3 separate regions of the Homo sapiens genome follow, and all the other regions are linked to region 1. The links come from fine-mapping of genetic effects on gene expression. A gene starts in region 1. Each other region holds a variant in brackets. All regions are shown on one strand. Distances are between the middles of the regions.

The links. PIP is the estimated chance that this variant, and not a neighbour inherited with it, causes the effect. A credible set is the group of variants that fine-mapping cannot tell apart.
Region 2: its variant is the best candidate, but not a certain one, in a credible set for the expression of RAPGEF2 in whole blood (TOPMed, PIP 0.71).
Region 3: its variant is the best candidate, but not a certain one, in a credible set for the expression of RAPGEF2 in monocytes after R848 (Quach 2016, PIP 0.55).

What each region holds. Positions count from the first base shown.
Region 1 is chr4:159,099,740-159,107,928 of GRCh38, reverse strand. RAPGEF2 (Rap guanine nucleotide exchange factor 2) reads right to left here and starts at 4,850. Exons shown (of 30, transcript NM_001394067.2): 1 at 3,698-4,850. The coding sequence starts at 3,766. RefSeq lists silencers at 3,711-4,130, 4,098-4,392, 4,141-4,430, 4,471-4,690, 4,821-5,360 and an enhancer at 5,009-5,700.
Region 2 is chr4:159,165,113-159,173,301 of GRCh38, reverse strand. All of the region lies in intron 1 of RAPGEF2 (Rap guanine nucleotide exchange factor 2), which reads right to left. Among named protein-coding and RNA genes, the nearest start is that of MIR3688-1, 40 kb to the right of the region's middle. RefSeq lists enhancers at 3,218-3,327, 3,568-3,677. The variant T/C (reference allele first, on the strand shown) is at 3,231.
Region 3 is chr4:159,251,216-159,259,404 of GRCh38, reverse strand. The region is part of intron 7 of RAPGEF2 (Rap guanine nucleotide exchange factor 2); the gene reads right to left. Among named protein-coding and RNA genes, the nearest start is that of MIR3688-1, 130 kb to the right of the region's middle. The variant TTTTTTCCAAGACATAA/A (reference allele first, on the strand shown) is at 3,509.

The DNA.
Region 1 (8,189 bases):
AATATAATGAGAGTATAAGCTGACAAATATGAGTCTGCTTATAAGCAATGGTAAAAAGAAACTCAAATGGAAAATTTAACTATAACAGACACAATTCTTCCATTAGATTTGAAAGTTAAATATTTGTCAGAGATATTCTTTCATGCCGTTTCTCATAATTTACAGTTCTCTGAGCTAAAGTTACTTTTTTCAGCCCTCTCATTATGACTCACGATGAATTCTACCAAGTACTTAGCAATGAATTAAGTCCTGTATTCTTTATAACACATCAATGAGTTAGTACTTATATCAAAAGTTGTAATAGCCCAAAAAAAAGTAAGATTATTAAATAGGAGGAGATGGGGTGGGGGTTATTTTACACATAACATTTTTAACAGTAACTTTTACAACTAGCTAAAAATGCATTACATTAGGTCTTTAAAGAGAAGAAACAGTTTTGCAATAGATGTTTCACCTGAAAAACTGAAAATGGTATGCATTTAGACACTCTACAGAAGCAATTTCAAAGGGCCTGAACTCAACAAGTTAACAAAATGGTTTAGAAAAACCATTTTATTGTATAAGCCTTGGGGGATAAAAGCTGTTTGTAATTTATTTACATCTTTTACTTCACCAAATTGCCTTGGTGACCAAGCTTCTCATTTAAGTGATTAAAGACATAAACCCAAATGGTTAAATAAAGCAATTACTTAAGAGTCCTGTTTTTCAACAGAGGTGCACTGAAAAATATCAGTAGAATGTTTTCAGGGCTCATTATTTTCAAGGAAGTTTGTTATTTAGAATACAATGCCCCATTGACTAGAACTCAGCCAGGTTTCCAGACACACAATATGGGACACACATTGGATTAGAGTTTTCCTCCTCCTCTCACAATATCAGGTGAAATAGTGATAGTCTCTTGAAACTGAGTATGTATAACCTGGCTAAAACTTAGATGATAATTTTTTTGGTATTTCTCCTTACTATTCCCCCTCTCTAAAGATATAACTGAAATGCGTTTCCATTGTGCAGGTGGACATGAAAAGCTCCCAATTTATGAAAGTTCCTGGTACTCTTCCCACCCCTAGATTCTCTTCTAGCCAACTTCTTAGGTTACACCAATGACATCAGGATTACTTCTAGGCAATTGATTGACCTAAATACAAAACTATGTTTTCACGGAGCTTGGGAAATGAATGAGGCCAGCAAGCCTTTAAAAAACAAACAGAAATGAACAGCAGGAAAAAAAATTACATATGTTCCCCAATTCTTTTCCTTTTGCCTATAACGAGAATCATGCAAACTCCTTTATCGAGTCTATCCTCAGAAACAGAAGGAAGCAAAACAGCAAAACTTTCCTAATTCCTGTCCTTCTGTTCATGATATCAAGCTTATTTAACATGGTTGCTTTTCTAATATTATAAAATTCGAACTCACAAACATTTATAAGACAAGGCTGTATGGAAAATCTTCCAGCGTTCCATTAACAAAGCATTCTTAACATAAAAAGTACCTTCTACAAAAACTTTTTTTTTTATAATTTTTGAGTAAATTTCAAATTTTTATAAGATTACTCCTGGCCAGTCAGGTAAAGATGGAAAACGTTCACATTTCGAACAACTTTCTCTTGAAAAGAAATAAACGTGGGGATTTGTAGTAATAACCAAACGAACATCAAAGTTAATAGGGCTGACACTTAGGAATGTTTGAAATGTTTGGTAGGTTTCCTTATGTTTACTTTTTCTATGAAGGTTTGGTAGGGCAAATGGGCTGCCTTCCGACTGTCAATAAAGCTTTCATGTCGTGGGTTAGTAGTAGCTGGCCCAGGCCAAGTTCTGTGTTGGGTCAGTTTTTACTCTATTCTACACAACTGGCAGGGGAACAGGAAAGTTTAACAGTTCATTTATTTGGCACAGTGGGCCCACAGTCACAGTGGAGGTTTTGTCTCTTCTAGTCTTGTTTGGTGACCCGCCCCCCAACCTGATAGTAGGTTTTAGTCATTGTTATTCTTCTAACTAATCAACCAAATGCACCACTTCCCCCTTCTCTAATTTCCACCAAAGGCCTCTGACATCATTTTCTGACCAGCCTTGCTAGGTTCTAATATTCTCAGCATGCGTAATTTCACTTGGCACTTAAAACAATATTCTTGAAAGGAAATGAAATATCTCACTGAAATCTGCTTTTCCTTCACACTGAGACAGGGAATGTGCATTTTCAGATGCAGAAGACTGATCCAACTGACCATTTTAAAACAAATAGATGAGAAAGGCATAGGAAAGGCAGCGTGTGCAACACCAAGAGAAGAACAAGATCAATGCAGGACATTCCTTGTTGGGATAAAAATAGTCTTTTAGAATGGGAACTTTCTGGAGACAGATAAATTTTCTTGTAAAATTACAGCCATCTTCCACACGTTTGATAAATATGTGCAATCTATCCATGATCTCCCAGATGTGACAGCTCCATCAAGGAAAATGAAAAATCAAAAACGGTACCAGGTGCCACTCTTGGGGCTTGTCCAAAGGCAGCCAGGGGAAGAGTCTATTTTATTATGCTCTCCCCACAGTAAATAATAATCAACATCAGAGAAGGAGAGCATTTGGATTTGAACAGATGGCATCCAACATCTAACAAGCGAAGCAACACTTTCAAGCATTAGATCCTAAATGTCTGATGGTCCCAAGGATCAGGAGGGCTTATTTGTCTTAAGAGGGTTGGCAGGCAGGATCTCCTATAGTCACCATCCCAACGCTTAGGAATATGCGTCATTATCCAGTCAGCAACTAAAGGCGGAGAAAATTAAGCTACCACATTTTTATAAAATTTCCCCCTCTCCAGTAAAACTTGAGACAACCAAATCCAACCCTATCAGCCGCTATAAGTAAGAGAAGAGTAAGCCTGCAGGTAAACAAATGTATAAAGGTTAACAAACTTATCTAATTTTGACAAGGTTGTGCAACACCAAAAGAATCCGCAGGGTGCCCTTCCCGAGGGTGTACTGGAACATGCCTGCTCTGCAGCTATGTCTGCAATTTAAACTAAAAGCACTAACTTAGCTATTCAACTTTTTTTCCCTTCAATTGAAAGCAGTATCCTTTAAAAAATAAAAGCAAAACAGTAAACATACAAACACCTCAATGTTTTACTGAAGGTCAGCATGGATTTGTCTTTAGCACAACCGTACAGGTTTCCTCCTATACCTTTCAAACACCACTGAACTCCAAGGGTCACTTGCAAGGGGAGGAACGGATCTGGAGTCAGAGGGAGCAAGAGTCGCTGCCCGAGGGGAGATGAGACTCCATCCCCTGAGATTCAGAGGCCACGGAGGGCGGCTGGGGAGAGGGAAAGCTAGAGAATTCACACATTCACACACATACACACACACACACACACTCTCTCTCTCTCTCTCTCTGTCTCTCCCTCTCTCTCTCTCTCTCTCTCTCTCTCTCTCTCTCTCGGCTGGGCAACATAGTGGGAAAGGTCAGTCATGGGGAGGGAAGAGTTAAGGAGCAGAATGTCAAGGAGAGGGAAAAATAAAACCAGGATAGGCGGAGTAAAAGACTCGGAGGTGGGATGCCTTTGGAAGTTGGGGGTCCTGATGCAAGAAGTGGGGTGCTCGGGGCGAACTGTGTCAGGAAGGAGGTGGGGGGACAGGGGAAGACGCAGCCTGCGAGGCAGAAATCCGGCCAAGGGCAGGCGGCCGCCGCGTTCTCACCTGGGGGGTCCTTTCGGGGGGATTCTTCATCACCGCCTGGCGGAAGCTGTTATCTACGTAGGACGCCATCTCCCCTCTGGGAGCGGGCCGGGGCCGCTCCGCACCCTGGCCGGCCTCCTCCCGGCCCAGCGCCGCTGCTGCCTCCGCCCTGCGCGCTGCGCCCGCCCGCCCGCCCGCGACTAATCAGCCAAACCGCGGCGGCGGCGGCGCGGGGCCCGCGGGGGGGCGGCTCGGCTGGGCCCGGCGGCCGAGAGCGCGGTACAGGCGCGAGGGGCTGGACGCAGCCGGGAGGGTCGCGGCGCCCCTAGGCTGCCGTGCGATGCGGCCCGCAGGCGGAACTCCCCTTCCTCCTCCTCCTCCTCTTCCTCGCCGCTCCGCCGGCTTCCTCCGGCCCTGGCTCGACACGCCTCCCCGGCTCCACTCGGGGGACAGTGGCGGCTCCTCCTGGCCCCAGCGGGCCCGAGTTATTTTTAGGGAGGTACGAGTGGCAGTGGGGAGGGCTGTGGGCAGGCGGAGCCTCCTCCCCCACGGCGCTGAGGGTCGCCCCCTCCTCTCAGGGGCTTGCGCAGCCGCCGCCCAGGGGTCTCCGAGAATCACTTGGATCTTCCGCGTCCCCAGTCCTCGGGCGCCTCGGCCGCCGGTCGGGAGGACGGACCAGGTGGGTCTGGCTCAGGTCCGGGCGCTGCGAAGCCCGATCGCCTCGGCCGCCGCTCCTGGTCTCTGTCTACTGGGCTCGGCCGTCCCTCCCGACTGCTGCTGCATCCCCTCGGGCCGCCCAGCCGCCGCCGCCGCCGCCTCTGCTGCTCGGGCCGCCGCTGTGGGCTCCGCCGCCGCCGCCTCCCCCCATCAGCGCGCCCGGAGCGGAGCTGCCCCGGCGCCGGCGCCGCCGCGGCCAGAGCACCCGGCCCGGGCTGCAGCCCTCCGGCCCAGTCGCTCTCGGCAACTTTGTTCCTCGTCTGCGCGGGGCGGAGGAGGGGGAAGAGGGGGCCGCGGACAGCCCGGGTTCGGACTCCCGGCGCGGGCGTCCGAGGGCCGAAAGCCGAGAGCCGCGCACAGCCCCCTCGGAGAGAGTGTTTGGGAAGCGGCGATTCCCCTCCTCTTCCTCCGCCTCTTCCTCCTCCTGCGCCTTCTCCGGCCGCCGGAGCCGCTCCTCAGGGAGGAAGCGGCCTCTGGGGCTTGTTGCTTTGTGCTGCAACCATGGTGAGGAATGAGTGACAGCGTGGGGGCGAGTCGGCGGCCGCCGCATCATCGGGGGGCGGGGCAGCCCCGTCGCGCCGGGTCCCGCCTCCCCGCTCCCCGCCCGCCAGCGGCCGCGCCCTCGCGTCTGAGCGGCACCTTCGGCGGCGCCCAGGTGAGCAGCGCTCTGGCCGCAAGTGGGTCGCGGAGCCCTCGGCCGGGCTGTCGGGTCCCGCGCGCGGCCTGGACCCGAAGAGGGGGCGCAAGTCCTGGTGCCCCGGAGAGAAGCGCAGGGCTTTCCTCACGCAGTGTCCCCCACTGTCTCACGCCGCGCCCCCTCCCCACACCCGACGCGCCCTACTAGGAGACCCAGCCGCGTCGGGTCGCTGCTCCCCGCCCGCTCCTGGCGCCACGCCGCCGCCCAGGGGCTGAAAGCTAACCTTGGGCAAAAGACCGGCCCACCAGCCCGGGCTGTACTGGGCATTCTTTTTGAGCCCAAGAGTTGCGTCCGAGTTGCTTCTGTGGCGATAAATCCTCTTAGGATTTATTTTGCTTATTTGTAATTTGCTGCACCCTCCCCTGCTTTCCAAGCCCACTCTGGCACCTCAGACAGTAAAATGACCACGAAATTAGGCAGAGAGGTTTCAACACCAGACCCACTACCACCCCTAGACCAACAAACACTCCAGATTTAAAGTTGATCACTCCTTAGCGACAGACCAGGATGGCAAGTTCTGTGACATAATCAGAAACATTTATTGGTAGGTCTGGCTTTGCCTTGGACAGAACAAGCCTCCTCCTCTAGATGCTCAAATTTCCAAACCGGACCCACATGGTGCAGAAACAATACCTCGTCCTTCAAGATGTCACCGCTCCTGCTGATTCCCTCAGCTCCCCCCCACTCCTTGCCCCGGCCACGTAGAGGTGTGTTAAGGTCAGCCCAAGCATCGGGGACCACTCTGCTGTTCTGGTCCCAGGGATTTATTTTTGTTTGCCCCCACCCCCCACAAGTTCTTATTTTGATATCTATAGACACAATGAGTTTTATGTATGAGCTACTGCGTTGAACTTTTCAAACATGATTTTCAACATCTAGTTTAAACACTTGGAATAGATTGTCAGCTAACATTTTGGGGTTCCTTAAGTCACCTGTGTGCACTAAACAGCTTGTGTGACTTCCTAGCAAAGGGACTGTCCCTGCCCAACCTTGTGAAAGGGAATCTGAGTTACAAATTGTATCTGTAGACCTTTTTATATTACTCTTGCTGGAACTGCTTCTCTATATTTCTCTTTCACCTCTTAGTTGAGCGCCAACATCAAATTCTCTATGACATAGGCCACTACCTTGAAAGCAAAGGAACATGAATAAGTGCCAATACAGCTCTGAAAAAAGGAGAGAGGCAGATAAAAGAATTCAAACCCAATGAAGTGAAAAAATATAACTGACATCTCCACCTGGTGTCTAATAGACATCTCAGAATTCACATGTGCAAACCAGGCTCCAGATCTCCTGTCTCAGACACCCACAGCCTTCCCCATCCTCTGTTAATCACATCTACACCATTCTCACTTCCTGGGTGAAAACGTTGACTTCCTTGACTCCTTTCTTTCTGTTATACCTCAAAAGTGTCAGTAAAAATCGTCAGCTCAACCTCCAGAATGCCATATCTGAACTCTAACCTTTATCTACCACTTCTACTGCCATGACCCTGGTGCAATCCAGCATCATGTCTGGCCAGCACTTTGTCATAACCACCCACCTGGTCCCCCTCTTTCTAACCTTGCTTGCCATACAGTTCATTTCCAACACAGCAGCCAAAGTGTGAATTCTTTTCACTCCTTCTCAAATCATTCCTCTGCTTAGCTCCTCATACCACTCAAGGTAAAAGCCAAAGTCTTACCATGGCCTGAATATCCTATGGACCTTTATCTCTCTGACCTCTTCTACTATTCTGTTCCCAAGCACATTAGCCTCCATGTTGTTTCTGAAACAGCAAATTCCAGTCTCATGACCTTTCCATCTGCTGTTCCCTCTACTGCCTGGATTATCTCTCCCCCTCTCCCCACCCCACTTGCACCCACAAAAACAAAAAACAAAAAGAAAAATGCACACACACAACAACCAAAATATAGAATGTTGTTCCTCATTGTCATCATATCTTCATTTGAATGTCACCTTCCCTGTAACTCCATACACTCTGGTTATCTTCGTCGCTTTACTTACCACCTAACATACTGTATATTGTACAGGTGCTTGCCCACTTAGGATGGGGTTACATCCTGAGAAACCATTGTAAGTCGCAAATATTGTAAGTCAGAAATGCATTTAATACCCTGATAAACCCATTATAAAGTGGAAAAATCGAAAGTCAATTTATTGACCATCGTAAATTGAGAACCATCTATACTTATTTATTTTATTTATTGTTTTATCCCTCCACTGTAATGTAAGCTTCTAAGTCAGGGATGTTTGTCCCTTTTATTTACTGCTATATCCTCAACACAAGACAGGCAGCCAACAAATAGGTATTAAATGGATACATGAAGTAGTTCATGTTACCTTGTATTTGTATGAGATTTTTACATACATTATCTCACTTGTGTCCCTGGTTGCGGGGAGAAAACTGGGAGAGGAAACTTAACCTCTCTGAGCCTGTTTTCTGTTTTATAAAAAGAGAGTACAAATTGAATAGTCTGGCCAGGCAAAGTGGCTTACACCTGTAATCCCAGCACTTTGGGAGGCTGAACCAGGAGGATAGCTTGAGGCCAGGAGTTCAAGACCAGCCTGGTCAACATAGCAAGACCACTGGCTGCACAAAAACTTAAAAAAAAAAAAGGAGCGGGGCATGGTGGGGTGCACTTGCAGTCCTAGCTACTCAGGAGGCTGAGGTGGGAGGTTATCTTGAGCCCCGGAGTTCAAGGTTGCAGTGAGCTATGATCACACCATGGCACTCCAGCCTGGGTAACAGAGCAAGACCCTGTCACAAAAAAAGAAAAAGTTGCATACCCTGAAGATTTGTGACGATCCAAGATAATACATGCAAAGTGCCTTGCATAGTGGTTTAACAACAGTATATACTCAATAAATGGTAGTTATATTTAAGATTATTCTCATCATTGCAACTCTCTGAGGCTAGTGGGACAGTGTTATCTTATTTACAGATGAAGAACTGACACTAAAATAGGCTACATGACTTGTCCTAGTTCCCGGACTGCCTTTAACTTTAGAAAGTTCTGGAGCCAGCTAACAAATGGGGATCCATATACTCTATCATAAATACTAAAAGCTACAAATTAACTGGGGGAGTACTGAGTA
Region 2 (8,189 bases), 65 kb before region 1:
GTCACTGAGGACACCAGTTCTTTATTGCCTCTTAGCAAAAAAGAAGTACTCTTTGAATGGAAGGTTTTAAATATAGAAAATTTCATTGTAGCCATTTTTCTAGGACAAAAGACAAAAATAATTTGACATCTGTTTTTCCCATCTTGAATGTTTTACCAAGGAGTCAACCACCAATAGTACTACTTATTCTCAAATTTTCTATTTCTCAAGAGGACAGGAGAAGCAAATGAGAATATTCGACATATGTAATTAAAGCCTTCCACTATTGGTCAGAAAATGAGCTAAAATGCTAAAGAAATTTTAGGTCTGTTCAAAATTGATCTCTTTTAGACCTATCCATGAAAGGTGAAGGAGCAGAGAAGAGGAATAGTTTATCCAATCAGATAAACTATTTAGGGAAAGGGTGCAGAGGAGGGCAGTTACAGAAAATGCTGGGTATTACTGAATTTCAAAGAAGAATCAGAGACTTAAAAATATGTAAAAATATGTATTTTCTAATCAAGTGCTCCACTAGAAGGGACAGCAAGTTATAGTTTCTGAAGTATCTCACCTTTCAATACATGTTTTGAATTCTCCTTTGAAGCTAAGAATCTCACTTTACTTATCCTACTGATAACTGTTCTACCTCCCCCACTTACAGAGGAAGTAGCATGCGTGCATTACAACTTAAAATTGTACATGTGTACATTTGATTTATATGACAGACTCCATCACATTCATAAATAAGTAGACCTTTACCTTCACAACATTGATACTCTGACATCCCACCCCCAACATTTAAAGCCCTCAGATCATCATTACCAAGATTCTCCAGAAATCAGAAGGAAGCAAAGAGCCCTTGGGGTGGTAAGAGTGAATATCCTATGAAGTCAATTACTGCAGAGCAGCCATCACAATCAGAAAGGAACATGAATAGGGAAGGTAGGAGAACGGTTCCCAACTTCACATTTCCTAAAATACTTGTGCATAACTTAAAATGTGTGTTGCCTCAGGGCCAGTGTTATAAAGGGTGGTTGGGTCTATCAGCTACTGCATCCGAGAACTACAGGACCCATACAGGAAGAAGGAAAAGGAAGCTATAAAATATTTTCTTGGTAAAAGATTTCAAAGAAGGCTAGTGAAAAGGTTCCAAATGTAGGTCCACCAGAGAATTCTCACTAGTGTGTGGCAAAATGAGAGATTAAGGACAATGAGTTGAGATCCTTGATAAGCTTAATGTATTCCATTTAAAGAGTTCTCCTTTATTGTGGGACTGTAACCTTCCCTTTTTTTTATAATGTCATTACTTGAAATTATATTGATACTAGATAGTAGTTCACTGTTTTATCTAATATCCTTAACAGAAGAAATGTTTTAAGTTGCCTACCCTATTTTGGTGCTGTAACTCTTGAACGGTAGTATGAAGGGCAATGGTCTTGGCTTGATGAAAATCCAAAAACTTGGGACACTTGTCTCTGACACCTACCTAAAGCAATCTTACTGAGTGAGTGAGGTGACTGCAAAGTTGCAGAATTATTTACCTTTTACTTCCGGCTCTTATTCTCTATGAAAACTTTCCAGAAAAAAGTATTCTAGGTATTTTGACCCTATCCCATGAAAGATTCTTAAAAAAAAAAATTTAAGAGACACTCCTTTTACATGAAAGATATCTCTAGAACTACTAGTGGAACTCTGGGCCTTGGTATAGAACGAAAAATTTGCAAAATGATGTAGGAAGATGTTGTGGACAGAACAGGTAATCACAGTGCACCTTTCCAGGCAATTCCCCTGCATACTCTCTGCTTGCCAGGCCACTAGGCAGATGAGTCACTTGAGCAACACTGACTGAGTTCAGTATCTGACTGCCATTTACCAGCTTGGCATCCCTGAACAAGTCACTCAACCTCTCTGTGGCTCAGTCTCTCCACCCGTAAAATAGGAATAATAAGAGTATCTAAGATTTTCTAAGCGAATCATCAGTGCCTTGACGTGTAGTAGGCACTTTCTTTTATGAACACTGGCATGTGGAACATTATTGTTGTTCAAGTTAAAGGTAATTATGAAAATCAAACGGAGAGGAGTGCCTCAGGGTGAAGGAGGTTATCAGTAACTCTTTGGCTTCTGCCAAAATATGTCAGGCTGCAGAGATTTCCTACAACATACTCAAAACAGCATTTTAGTTTATCTTTTTTGTTTTCTTAGATAATGTCTGGTCTTAAAGTAAAATAACAATGTTGCAACACTCTAATAGTAGACCACTTAAGAAGTAGACAGGGTAACAGAACAGAGAGATCAGAAATAAATCCACCATTTACAGTCAACTGATTCTCAAAAAAGGTACCAAGAGCACACAATGGGGGAAAGAAGAGTCTCTTCAATAAATGATGTTGAGAAAACTGGGTATCTACACATGCAGAAGAATAAAATTAGACCCTTATTAATACCATACACAAAATAAACTCAAAATAAAGACTTAAACGTAAGACCTGGAACCGTAAAACTAATAGTAGAAAACATCTGAAAAGTTCCATGACATTGGTACAGGCAATAATTTTCTGGAAATGACCCCAAAAGTAAAGGCAACAAAATCAAAAATAGATGAATGGGATCACATCAAACTAAAAAGTTTCTGTATAGCCAAGAAAACAGTTGGGCTAAAGAGACAACCTACAGAATGGGAGGAAATAAAGCTGACCCTTAGTATCCATGATGGGTTGCTTCCAGAACCCGCCCCCGAGGATTTTCCTTATATAAAATGGCATAGGGTTTGCGTGTAGCCTATGCACATCCTTCCATATATTATCTCTAGATTACTTATCGTATCTAATGCCATGTAAATACTATGTGAATAGTTGGTGTTATACTGTATTGTCTTTTTTACTGTATTAGTTTTTACTGTTGTATTGTTTGTTTATTGGTTTTTTAAAATATCTTCGATCCATGGTTGGTTGAATCTGCAGGTGCAACCTGAGTGTATGGAGGGCTGACTGTATTTGCAAACCATACACCTGATAGGGGGTTAATATACAAAATATATAAGAAAAACAACTCAATAGCAAAAAAACACAAGTAACCCAATTTCAAAATAGGAAAAGGACCTGAATAGACATTTCTCAAAAGACTACAAATAGCCAACAGGTATATGAAAAAATGTTCAAGATCACTAATCATCCAAGAAATGCAAATTAAAACCACAACAAAACCTCATACATGTAAGAATGGCTGTTTAAAAAAAAAAAAAGAGATGAGCA[T/C]TGAAGAGGATGTGAAGAAAAGAGAAATTCTCACTGTTGATGAGAATGTAAATTAGTATATTCATTATGGAAAACAGTATGGAGGTTCCTGCAAAAAAATTAAAAATAGGACTACCATATGATCAAGCGGTCCCACTACTGGCTATATATTCAAGGAAATGAAATCACTATGTTGAAGAGATGCCTGCACTCCCATGTTCACTGCACCATTATTCACAACAGCTGAGATACGGAATCAACCTAAACGTCCCTCAATGGATGGATGAAGAAAGTGCGGTATATAGGTATAACAGAATATTAGCCTTAAAAAAAATGAAATCCTATTATTTATGACAATATAAATGAACCTGGAGGATATGTTAAGTGAGATAAGCCAGGCGTACAAAGGCAAATACTGTGTGATTTCATCTATATGTAGAATCTAGAGAAGTTGAATTCACAGGAGTAGAGAGTTCCCACAGTGGTCACAAGGGGCTGGGGAGGGGGGGCTGTTGGGGAGATGTTGATCAAATGACACAAAATTAGCTAGGAGGAGTAAGTTCAAGAGCTCTAATGTACAACATGGTAACTACAGTTAACAACAATATATTGTATTCTTAAATCACTAAGTAAATTTTAAGTGTTCTAACCACAAAAAATAAGTTGAGGTAATATGTATGTTAATTGGCTCAATTTGGCTATTCCACAATGTATGCATATTTCAAATCACGTTGTACACCATAAATACCTATAATTTTTATGTATCAATTTTAAAAATAAACTTTTAAAAACAAGAGAACAGCAGAATTTGACGTGTAATTGAGTATTTAATTAAACACACATTTTTTTTCCTAATACAAATGACAACTTTTATTTAGTCTCAAATTTCCACATAGATTGGGAGTTGAGGGGGGTTCCAAAATCTGTTCAGATGTTATCCTTTCCCTTCATTTGCAGTTCACTGGTCAATTCAAAGTATTGAATACTTGCTCTGTGCAAAGCACTGTGCTGGGATGTTGCCTTGGGGATACAAAGGTTGGTACAATATACTCTGGTCCTCAAAGAAACTCAGTTTGCTAGAATAGATAAAAGATTCTCACAAATGGCCACAATGCAAGATAGAAATTCAATTATGAATAACGGTTGTCAGAAGACAAGTTTTCTTACTCCCAAATTCACAAATGCTTTCTTCCACTCTACCACTGCTGCCAGCTGATATCAAAACTTCTATATCCTATCACATATATTCTTCTCTTCTAGCCTTTGATCCTCAAGCTACCTACAAAGCAATTATATGAAAAATAATAAATACCCATAACTTCTCATTCTTTCCATTGGAAAACTGTTACTGAGTACCTCCTACGCATAATGAAACGTGACCGTATCCTACATGTATCATCAGGTCCTTTTATCATTAGAAAAGAGGTGTCGTTTTCAAAGTATACCCTTTTACTATTTAAATTTATGACAGTTCAATAATAATTTAATATAAAGTGATGTCTTCTGCCAAAATGTACTAATAAATCTGCATGCTCTTGGGGATGAAACCCAACTTGGCAGAACCACCAGCTGTGCTGAACCATGTGTGGGGCCTGGCTGCCCGGCATCTAGTCTGCCTCCTTTGCAATGAACTGGGGAGGGAAAATAAAAATAAAAAGGGGAGGCCAAGGATGGATTTGTTTCCTGACTGTTCACTGGTCATTCACTGTAATGTTCTGGCTATCAAATGCACGCATAGGTATGTGTGCTTCAAGAATACCTGGAAATACATTCCTTTGAATATTGTAATTAGTAGTAATTCCTCAGCCTTTCTGGGGAGATTTGGCTTGTGAAAACATTCAACATACTCACCCAGACTTAAGCCTGGTAAAGGGGTTGAATATATTTAAGTTCAATCAGGCTCAAAAACAACATACTGTTGTATGAAAGTAAAGAGGTAACTTCCTTGTAGAATTCACTAAACAACTCTGGCAATAACCCCAACATAAATTCTAAACCTGTTTTGAGTAATGGCACCAAGGTTTTTATAAAAACTGCGTCACTGGACAACATGACAAAATTTCAAGATCATACATATTTACACATATGAGCCTCACCACCTTATTTTTAAATTTCATTTCATCATAGTTGATCCTAATTTTTACTGTAATAGAAAAATGTTAGTAAATCAAAGACAACAATACTTGTGGAAGTAAATCTACCACTACATTAAACAGGTACATTCCTTTGGTCCATTTTCTCAACTATCCAGTTATTGTATAACTTTTGGGAATCTGATCTTTGCCCCTAAATTTACTGAAATTTGTTTCTCCAAGATCACCAGTGATCTCTTTAAAGCAAATCCTTTTTTCTTCTTGTGCCAAGAATAGTGTCAAGCTCTATTCTAGATGCCAGGAACACACTAGCATACAAAACAGAGAAAATCATTGTCCTTTCTAGTAAGACAAACAATATTAAATAGAACATTTTTTAAAATTTGACAGTGACACACAAGAAGAAAAAAAATCACAAAAGGAAAGGGTATGAAACTTCGGGAAGGCACCCAGTGCTGTGTGGCCAGTCCTTCCCCTTGGGTCTTTCCCGGCCCAACATGGGCTCTGCAGTCTCTCCATGTTAGGTACTCCCAGGGCTGGGCTTTGAACCGTCATTCTTCTTCATAAGGATCCTTCCCTAAGATATCGCATCTATTCTCAGCCTATCTTTACAACTGACTCCTGGACTCTGACTTTTTTTTACAAACCACCACAATTCCCAGCTGATTAGTTACCATTTGAAGCTGCTGAAGCGTCATTTCAAATGGTAACTAAACTTCACACTAAATTTCCCCCAAAAAACTGGCCACATGTTTAGATTTCTCTACTTCTGGTGCCTGCACCAGTGTCCCAGCTATTCCAGTGAAAACCACGTAGGAGTTTTCAACTTAGTAGCAACTATTTTCTCTTTTTTCACACATTTAATGAGTCGTGGTTTTTTTTAATCCTGTAAAGTCTCCTGTCATACTTTTCTTTTTGATTTCTATTTTCTATGCCATGGTCATTTCGGGGCCTTCTCTTCTTTCACCATGTACAACATAAACCAATTAAAGGACCCCAAGTCATTTTTTAGGCGGTTGCCCTACCCTGCTGTAATATGTCCCTTGATCACCAAATTTCAACTGTGTTACACAGGCACATCATGCAGCATCTGAGGTCTATTCCAGTGTTTGCCCACATCAGCATCCACTACCCAATCCATCCTGATGGGCAACTCAACTCATATCCTCAGAGAAACCTTTTTGGACCCCTTCTCTAATCTCATCAACATTTACTCATGTATCACAAATAAGGAAGTTTTCATATGTTCATTTTTATTGTCGGTTTTTTTAATGTATATATGAAATACCTGAGTAAACAAGACAATATAGACACTACTCAATAAAGACTGTATTGCTCCCATACAGGGACCATACCCTATACCTCTTTTTACTCCCCACAATCCCTAGGAAACTGGATTCTGGAATTCTGGAACTCAAGTGGCAGAAAGCTCTGTAGCAATGGCTGTGTTAACTTCTCTAGGTTAACTACAAAGTAGATCAACAAAGTAATGAGACTAAAATCCCACAGCAGAGGTAAAAATGCATGTCTGATCAATACTTATTATCTGCAAAACAGTACATTTCCTCTAGACGCACTCACCCCTCACCCCACAGGCCTCTGCCACACCCAGTCTCATTGCCAGAGCCCTGAGGGTTTGCTCAGTTTTGATTTATGCCTCTGCCCTTTTCCTTACATTTTTTTTTTGAGATGGAGTCTTGCTCTGTTGCCCAGGCTAGAGTGCAGTGGCATGATCTCGGCTCACTGCAACCTCCGCCTCCTGGGTTCAAGCAATTCTCCTGCCTCAGCCTCCCAAGTAGCTGGGACTACAGGTGCCCGCCACCACGCCCAGCTAATTTTGTGTATTTTTAGTAGAGATGGGGTTTTGTCATGTTGGCCAGGCTGGTTTCAAACTCCCAACCTTGTGATCCACCCACCTCCCAAAGTGCTGGGATTACAGGTGTGAGCCAATGCTCCCGGCCCCTTTTCCTTACATCTTTGGAGCACTAATCCACTTTTGACTAGTCCTACTTCCTAATTTCTTATTTCATTGTTCAATGACTTTTTAAAAAAATCTTTCTTGTAACCTCTGTGATTTCTTTTCACATTTTCCAAAATGTCCATTGTTAGCTAGGCACAGTGGTTCATGCCTGTAATCGCAGCACTTTGGGAGGCAGAGGCTGGAGGACTGCCTGAGCCCATAAATTCGAGACCAGCCTGGGCAACATAGCGAGACCCCAACCCTACAAAAACTAAACAAATTAGCTGGGCATTGGGGTAGGCGCCTGTAGTCTTTCCCTACTCAAGAGGCTGAAGTCAAGACTGCAGTGAACTGTGATCCTGCCACTGCACTCCGGCCTGGTCAACGGATTGAGACCCTCTCTCAAAAAAACAAACAAAAATCCATTGTTTACACAATCTGATGTCCAGTATCCAACATGCTAAAATGAAAATACCTGCTCTTATATTCAACCTGATATGAATTATTCACTAATGATAACCTGACTTCAAAAACCTTTAGGCAAAGAGAAGACACATTTAATTATATTTATGTATACAGATAGAGATATATAGATATACATACAATTATATAAAATAATTACCAAAACATATCCGATCTGAATGATTTCCTCCAAGTTAAAAATGTATTGACTTTAAAATAAACATGAAAATGAACCAGGTAGGAAAAAATAGTTACTCCAGAAAAGATTAAAACTTTGTACCAGTTGGTCTATTTTAATGTTCTATTTTATAAAGTAGTATTTAAAACAAGACTCCTTTGTAATGAGTCATCATTTAATTAATATCCAAATACCTTGAGAGCCCATAACAGTTCAACAAAACAGCTGGAAATCAAATATCGGAGATAATTACTCACAGCTGGCTTTATTCAACTGATGTCATATTA
Region 3 (8,189 bases), 150 kb before region 1:
CATCAACCAAAGTCCATAACTGCTGCAAATATAGCTCAGTCATCATTTCTGGATATTGGACATTGGACATTCTATGCCCCAGTCTCTTTCTTCAAAAGGCACTTAAATGGTATACTTCTAAAGCGGTTAAATTATTTGATATATATCTCCTTTGGGCCACATTTTAAGTTTAAATAACATAAAAAGCAATACATGTTAAATTCATTTTTAAAAATGAGTAATTTCATAGATTGGGAATGGGAAAGACCTATGTTTGGCTTTCTAACATTTACTACCTGAGTGACCATGAATATTGAACATGTTACTTAACCTCTTTGGCCAGTGCATGCTTATCTACTGACGGGGAAATACTGAACTGTGGGCTAGTTTCATTGACAAAACACATCAGTAAACATCTAGCAGACTGGTGTATCATAAACCTTCAATAAGTGTCAGTTTTATTCTCTCTAAAATATTCTAAAAAGTCAGCTGCATTCAAGCCTCGGCCAACCCATTAATTAATGTACAGTTGTCTGGGACTAAGTTCTTTGTGCTGATATCCTTGTATAGACCTGTTAAAGCAGGAAGATCTATAATGCCACTCCTAGAAATACTAAATAATGCTAATTTTGCAAGTTTGATCCAAAGATATCAACATGATACAACCAGGGTATTGCTGAGACCTGTATTATCTGTTGTGCAAAGGATATACACAATGGCATAAAGATACTATCTGCTTTCATAGACCTATTGAGTCTTCAGAAATTTAATATTTAACAAATACATTTTTATTTTTAAAAAATCTAGTGTCTGGAAATAAATATCAAACTATGTAAGTTTTCAAAATGGTTTAATAGTCTTTCTAAAAAAAAGAAAGTGACAGTAATTATAAATGGACGCATTAACCAACAGACTTTACTACCAGAAATAGAATTGTGCCTGCCCTTTTGTTGTAATCAAATACATTCCAGACGGGAAATGCTTCCAAATAAACTTGCCTGAAAAATAAATAAATATAGAAGACCATCTCAATATAGAAAATATTTTAAATGACACAAAAATTTCTAAAATATTTTCTTGAGAAAAAAGTCAGCCTACCAATACAGCCACATGAGTTTAAGATAACAGCATTCAATATTCCTTTTTATAAATAAATGAATAAACAAACAAAACACACACCTAATTTCTCCCTCTCTTTAGCAGCTCTAAAAAGGCATGGAGAGTATTTTACTATTCATATTTTAGTTACACTTTGAAATTGTCAGTTACTACCATTTTGATATTTACAAACCAAAGATAATACTAGAATATTTAATTGTAAATATCAGGTTATCATTATTAGAATTGCTAACAACTGGCCAGATAGTTCATGTTCATGGAAGATTACATTACCTAGGTGTGTCATAAAGTAGCATTTCATATTATTAATACAGGAAGGCATTCACTCATTAATTCTACAACTGACCCCTAAGACTTTAAATGGGATAGGACAAGAAACGAGAAATCAGGGATGAAAGAGCCCATATAGCCAAGACAATACTAAGCAAAAAGAACAAAGCTGGAGGCATCATGCTACCCTGACTTCAAATTATACAAGTCTACAGTAACCAAAACAGCATGGTACTGTTACAAAAACAGACACACAGACCAATGACACAGAATAGAGAACTCAGAAATAAGACTGCACATCTACAACCATCTCATCTTCAACAAACCTGACATAAGCAATGAGGAAAACATTTCCTATTTAATAAATGGTGCTGGGAGAACTGGCTAGCCACATGCAGAAAACTGAAATTGCTCCTTTCTTACACCTTTTACAAAAATTAACTCAAGATAGATTAAAGACTTAAATGTTGATATGATTTGGCTCTGCATCCCCAACCAAATCTCATTTTACAGCTCCCGTAATTCCCAAGTGTTGTGAGAGGGACTTGGTAGGAGACGATTAAATCATGGGGCGGGTCTTTCCTGTGCTGTTCTCATGATAGTGAATGGGTCTCATGAGATTTGATGGTTTTAAAGACGGGAATTTCTCTGCACAAGCCCTCTCTTTGCCTGCTGCTATCCACGTAAGATGTGACTTGCTCCTCCCTGCCTTCTGCCATGATTGTGAGGTTTCCCCAGCCAGGTGGCACTGTGAGTCCAATTAAATATCTTTCTTTTGTAAATTGCCCAGTGTCAGGTATGCCTTTATCAGCAGTGTGAAACTGACTAATACAAATGTAAAACCCAAAACTATTAACAATCCTAGAAGAAAATCTAGACAATGCCATTCAGGACACAGGCATGAGCAAAGGTTTCACAAAAAACAAAACAAAACAAAACAAAAACACCGAAAGCATTGCAACAAAATCAAAAATTGACAAAATGGGATCTAATTAAACTAAAGAGCCTCTGCACAGCAAAAGAGACTATCATCAGAGTGAATAGACAACCTACAGAATGGGAGAGAATTTTTACAATCTATCCACCTGACAAAGGTCTAATATCCAGAGTCTACGAGAAACAAAAAAAATTTACAAGAAAAAAACAGACAACTCCATTAAAAAGTGGGCAAAGGACATGAACAGACACTTCTCAAAAGACACTCATGCAGCCAACAAACATGAAAAAAACTCAAACATCACTGATCATTAGAGAAATTCAAATCAAAACCACAATGAGATACCATCTCACACCAATCAGAATAGCTGTTATTAAAAAGTCAAGTAACAACAGATGCCTGTGAGGTTGCAGAGAAAAAGAAACACTTACATTGTTGGTGGGAGTATAAATTAGTTCAATAATTGTGGAAGACAGTGTGGCGATTCTTCAAAGACCTAGAGGCAGAAATAGCATTTGACCCAGCAATCCCATTACTGGGTATATACCCAAAGAATAGAAATCATCCTATTACAAAGATACTCACACACATATGTTCATCACAGCACTACTCACAATAGCAAAGACATGGAATCAACCCAAATACCCATCAATGATAGACTGGATAAAGAAAACTTGATACATATACACCATGGCATACTCTGCAGCCATAAAAAGGAACAAGATCATGTCCTTTGCAGAGACATGGATGGAGCTAGAAGCTATTATCCTCAGCAAACTAACAAGGAACAGAAAACTAAACACTGCATGTTCTCACTTTTAAGAGGGAACACAGGGAGGGGAACAACAGACACTGTGGCCTGCAGGGGGCCATACTGGGAAGAACATCAGGATACATAAAGCTAATACATGGGCTTAATACCTAGGTGATGGGTTGACAGGTACGGCAAACCACCATGGCACACGTTTACCTATGTAACAAAGCTGTATATCCTGCACATGTATCCTGGAACTTTAAATAAAATTAAACTAAAAAAAGAGATCAGAGATGAATTTCAGAAATCATGTTGGTCAGTTCAACAGCATGCTAGACATAAACAAAATGTACTGATCATCTATGAAATGCTTACTAAAAGATTGTCTTAGAGCAAGTGTATAAAAAAACCTGTTTTCTGGATGGGTTATATTTTATAGGAAGTAAATA[TTTTTTCCAAGACATAA/A]AGCAAACTTAAAATCTGTTCGACAAAAATTTAAAAGTATATATCACTAAACTCAGTGAAGTTTTAAGATTAAAAACAAAATTAACAAGATATTAATAATCCAATCAACTACTACAAAACATGGTATTTACAATAAAAGTAAAAACACAGTATGGAAGAAAATGAGACTATTTAAAAAAAAATCTCTACCCAAAAACAATGCAAGAACCTATGGTGACCCCTTATCACGTAGAATATTCATCTGGCCATTTCAGTTTTCACCAAGGGAGACCCACCATTTCAGATTTGAGGAGTTGAGACAACATTTCTGGTGCCTTTCCAAAGGCAGCTCTATCCCCTCAGACAATTATTTTGCTTTATAGTAGCTGATTACCGAAAGAATTTTGAATGTCAGAGCACAGTCATGAGTTGCCAATCACACTTTGTGGTAACAAGGGAAACTGGTCACTTATGTCTTAATATAAGAACAAGGAGACAGAAAAAGACTGAAGGCAGCACAAAGGCACCAGTTAAAAAAAAAAAAACTATATATTCAAAATAGAGCAAAAGAAAGAGAAGAATTCTAGAAATAAGGTAAGGGGAGTTTTGAGAAGAAAGAAGTTTTAAAAATGGCCACACATCATAACGACAGAATGACGGGGAATACATTCCGAGAACGGCGTCATTGGGCAACTTTGTCTTTGTACAAACATCATGGGAGTGTACTTGCACAAACCTAGATAATGTTGCCTACTACACACCTAGCTAGGCTCTTTGGGATAGCCTATTGCTCCTAGGTGACAAATCTGTACAGCATGTCACTGTACTGAATCCTGCAGACAACTGTAATACAATAGTATTTGTATATGTAAACATACCTAAACACGGAAAAGCTACAGTAAAAATACTGTACTTCATCTTACAGGACCACTGTTGTGTATGTGGTCGTTCACTGACAAAAATGTCATTATGCACCACAGGACTATTTAAAGTCTCATGCTGGTGGGGCATGGTGGCTCACGCCTGTGATCCCAGCACTTTGGGAGGCCGAGGCAGGCGGATCACCTGAGGTTAAGAGTTCGAGACCAGCCTGGCCAATATGGTCAAACCCTGTTTCTACTAAAAATTAGCCAGGCGTGGTGGCACACGCCTGTAGTTCCAGCTACTTGGGACGCTGAGATGGGAAAATCATTTGAACCCAGAAGACAGGGGTTGCAGTGAGCGGAGATTGTGCCACCTCACTCCCGCCTGGGTGACAGAGCAAGACTCTGTCTCATTTAAAAAAAAAAAAAAAAAAAAAAGTCATGCTGTATTAGGTACAGATTTTGGACTTGTCAGCATCCACAATAGCATACGCCAATTCCTGAATATCTCCTTCCCTTAACGCTCCACTGGTTCTGTTTATTTGCAGAACTCTATTATATTATGCAAATAAAATCTGAAAAACCAGTGAATCAAATCTGTAAGAGACTAGTTCACAAAGTATGGTCTCAGGACCCCTGAGGGTCCCCAAGACTCTTAAGAGTTCATAAAGTCAAACTATGTTTTCATTATGACATTAAAATGTTACTTGCTTTTTTCACTGCGCTCAAGTGCAAAAGCAAAAATGGGTAAAACCTAACTGATGTCTTAGGATATATCAAGACACTGGCATCACTACTACTATGTAACTACTGTTATTACCAATATTGTCCTTGTATTCTTTACCACCACTCACAGTGGCAAAAAAAGAAAATGCCAGTATTAAAGTGTCCTTGATAAAGCAGTAATAATTAATTACATTATATCTCCACCCATTAGTATACGTCCTTTTAATATTCTGTATGATGAAGCGAGAAGTTTGCATAAAGCACTTTTGTTACAATGTACAATGGTTGTCTCAAGGAAAAGACGTGCAATTATTCCAGTCGTAAGTGAACTGGCACCTTTTTTTCACAGAAAAACATTTTCTTTTTTTTTGAGACGGAGTCTCGCTCTGTTCCCCAGGCTCACTGCCAGCTCCGCCTCCTGGGTTCACGCCATTCTCCTGCCTCAGCCTCCCGAGTAGCTGGGACTACAGGCGCCCACCACCACACCCAGCTCATTTTTGGTATTTTTAGCAGAGACGGGGTTTCACCGTATTAGCCAGGATGGTCTCGATCTCCTGACCTCGTGATCCGCCCGCCTCGGCCTCCCAAAGTGCTGGGATTGCAGGCATGAGCCACCGCGCCTGGCCACAGAAAAACATTTTCATTTGAAAGAACAAATAATAAAAAAAAAAACTATGGTTATTCGGAATTGGGTATCTGGCAGGTATTTTCTAAAAACGAACAAAATGAGCTTGTCATTTGAAGAAAAACAGATGATAATAATTTGCTAATGATAAAATTTGAAGTTTCAACTAAAAGAATTTTGAAAAACATATCTAACACAGTAAGTCTGACAGCTTCTTAATAATTAAGGCCCTTTCTTTATGAGATCTGTGGTGGTATTAACAAATGTGACTTTTCTTTATATTGTATAATGCGCCAAAATTCAGAAGACTGTTTAACCCAGTGACCAATGCATGATGTTACAAAAGTATGCATAAGTAAAAAGATCCTTTCATTGTGCAATTAAGACCAATGGGTTTTAATAAAAGAGAGTAAGGCAAGTTACACTAACATGGTTTTAAATTCCTCATTGCAACTGATCTTTAAGAAACCACTACTGGTCAAATTTTGGTGCAGTCTTTGAAAGAACACCCACATTTATTTTTGAAAGCTGTTAAAATACTCTTCCCTTTTCCAACTACCTATGCATGTGAGGCCAGATTTTCTTCATATACTTTACATACTTCAACCAGAACAGCATATCACAACAGATTGAATACAGATGTGAGAACCCAACTGTCTATTAGACCAATATTAAACATATTTGCTAAAGTATCAAACACTATCATTCTTCTTATAAATTTGTTTTATATTTCCCCTTAAAAACCCTCATGTTAATGTGTAATGGGTGTATCACTATTTTTAAGTTAATCAATGGATACATATTTAAAACTTTTTGTTTCAATTTTTAATATGGTAAATAATAAACAAAAGCTCATTAGAGCCAAAAATTTTTTTTAGAAGTTTAAAGGAGTCCAGAGATGAAACTGTTTGAAAACTGCTGCAACTAGAAAACAATCGGCCTCTCTTAGCTGATGTGAAAGAATGCAGTTATCAACTGTCCTTAGATTTCCTGTTTACACCCACTTCAGCAGAACCCTCTGACAACTTAATCCGCTTGCAGAATAGCTGGCTGCTCTTTCAGTCTAACCAAAGTTAATACTAAAATTTAGGCAAAAGTTTATACTACAGAGTAATTTTTAAACTGAGCCGTCAGTATTCCTCAAAAATGCCCACTGTAAATGACATCAAGAATATCAACGATGCTCAAGTATTCTCTACATCCCAGTTGGTTAGGGATATGCTTATTTCATAAATTAACAAATGGCAAAATGATCCCTTTCTAAAAACTTTCTTAAGTGTTCCAAAAGTCCTGATGATTGAAACATTTTTTTTAAAGGTTCAGTTTAAATTTTTGTATAAAGAAATACAGGGCCAGGCGCCTATAATCCCAGTACTTTGGGAGGCCAAGGCAGGCAAATCGCTTGAGCTCAGGAGTTCAAACTCAGCCTGGGCAATATGGCGAAACCCTGTCCCTACAAAAAACACGAGTGTGCTGGCTCACGCCTGTAGTCTCAGCTACTAAAGAGGCTGAGGTGGGAGGATCTCTTAAGCCTGAAAAGTGGAGTTGTGTCTCCGGAATTGGTGGGTTCTTGGTCTGGCTGACTTCAAGAATGAAACCACAGACCCTCACGGTGAATGTTACAGTTCTTAAAAATGGTGTGTCCAGAGTTTGTTCCTTCAGATGTTCAGATGTGTCTTTGTTCCTTCTGGTGGGTTCGTGGTCTCTGACTTCAGGAGGGAAGCTGCAGACCTCCGCGGTGAGTGTTACCGCTCTTAAAGACGTGGCAGACCCAAAGCGTGAGCCGCAGCAAAATTTACTCCACGCTGTGGAAACGAACCCAAGCAGATCGCGGCGGCAAACTGGGCAGCCTGTTTATTCCCTTATCTGACCCCACCCACATCCTGCTGATTGGTCCATTTTACAGAGAGCTGATTGGTCCATTTTACAGACAGCTGATTGGCCCGTTTTGACAGGGTGCTGATTGGTGCATTTATAATCCCTGAGCTAGACACAGAGTGCTGATTGGTGCATTTACAACCCTCTAGCTAGACATAAAAGTTCTCAAAGTCCCCACGAGACTTGCTAGACACAGAGCACTGATTGGTGCGTTTACAAATCTTTAGCTAGACAGAGTGCTGATTGGTGCATTTACAATCCTCTCGCTAGACATAAAAGTTCTCCAAGTCCCTACCAGATTAGCTGGATACAGAGTGCTGACTGGTACATCCACAAACCCTGAGCTAGACACAGAGTGCTGATTGGTACATATACAATCCTCCAGCTAGACACAAAAGTTCTCCAAGTCCCCACTCTACTCAGGAGCCCAGCTGGCTTTGCCTAGTGGATCCCACGCCTGGGACGCGGGCAGAGCTCCCCACCAGTCCCACACTGCACTCCTCAGCCCTTGGGCAGTCGATGGGACCAGGCGCTGCAGAGCAAGGGACGGCGCCCGTCGGGAAGGCTCAGGCAGCACGGGAGCCCACGGAGGGT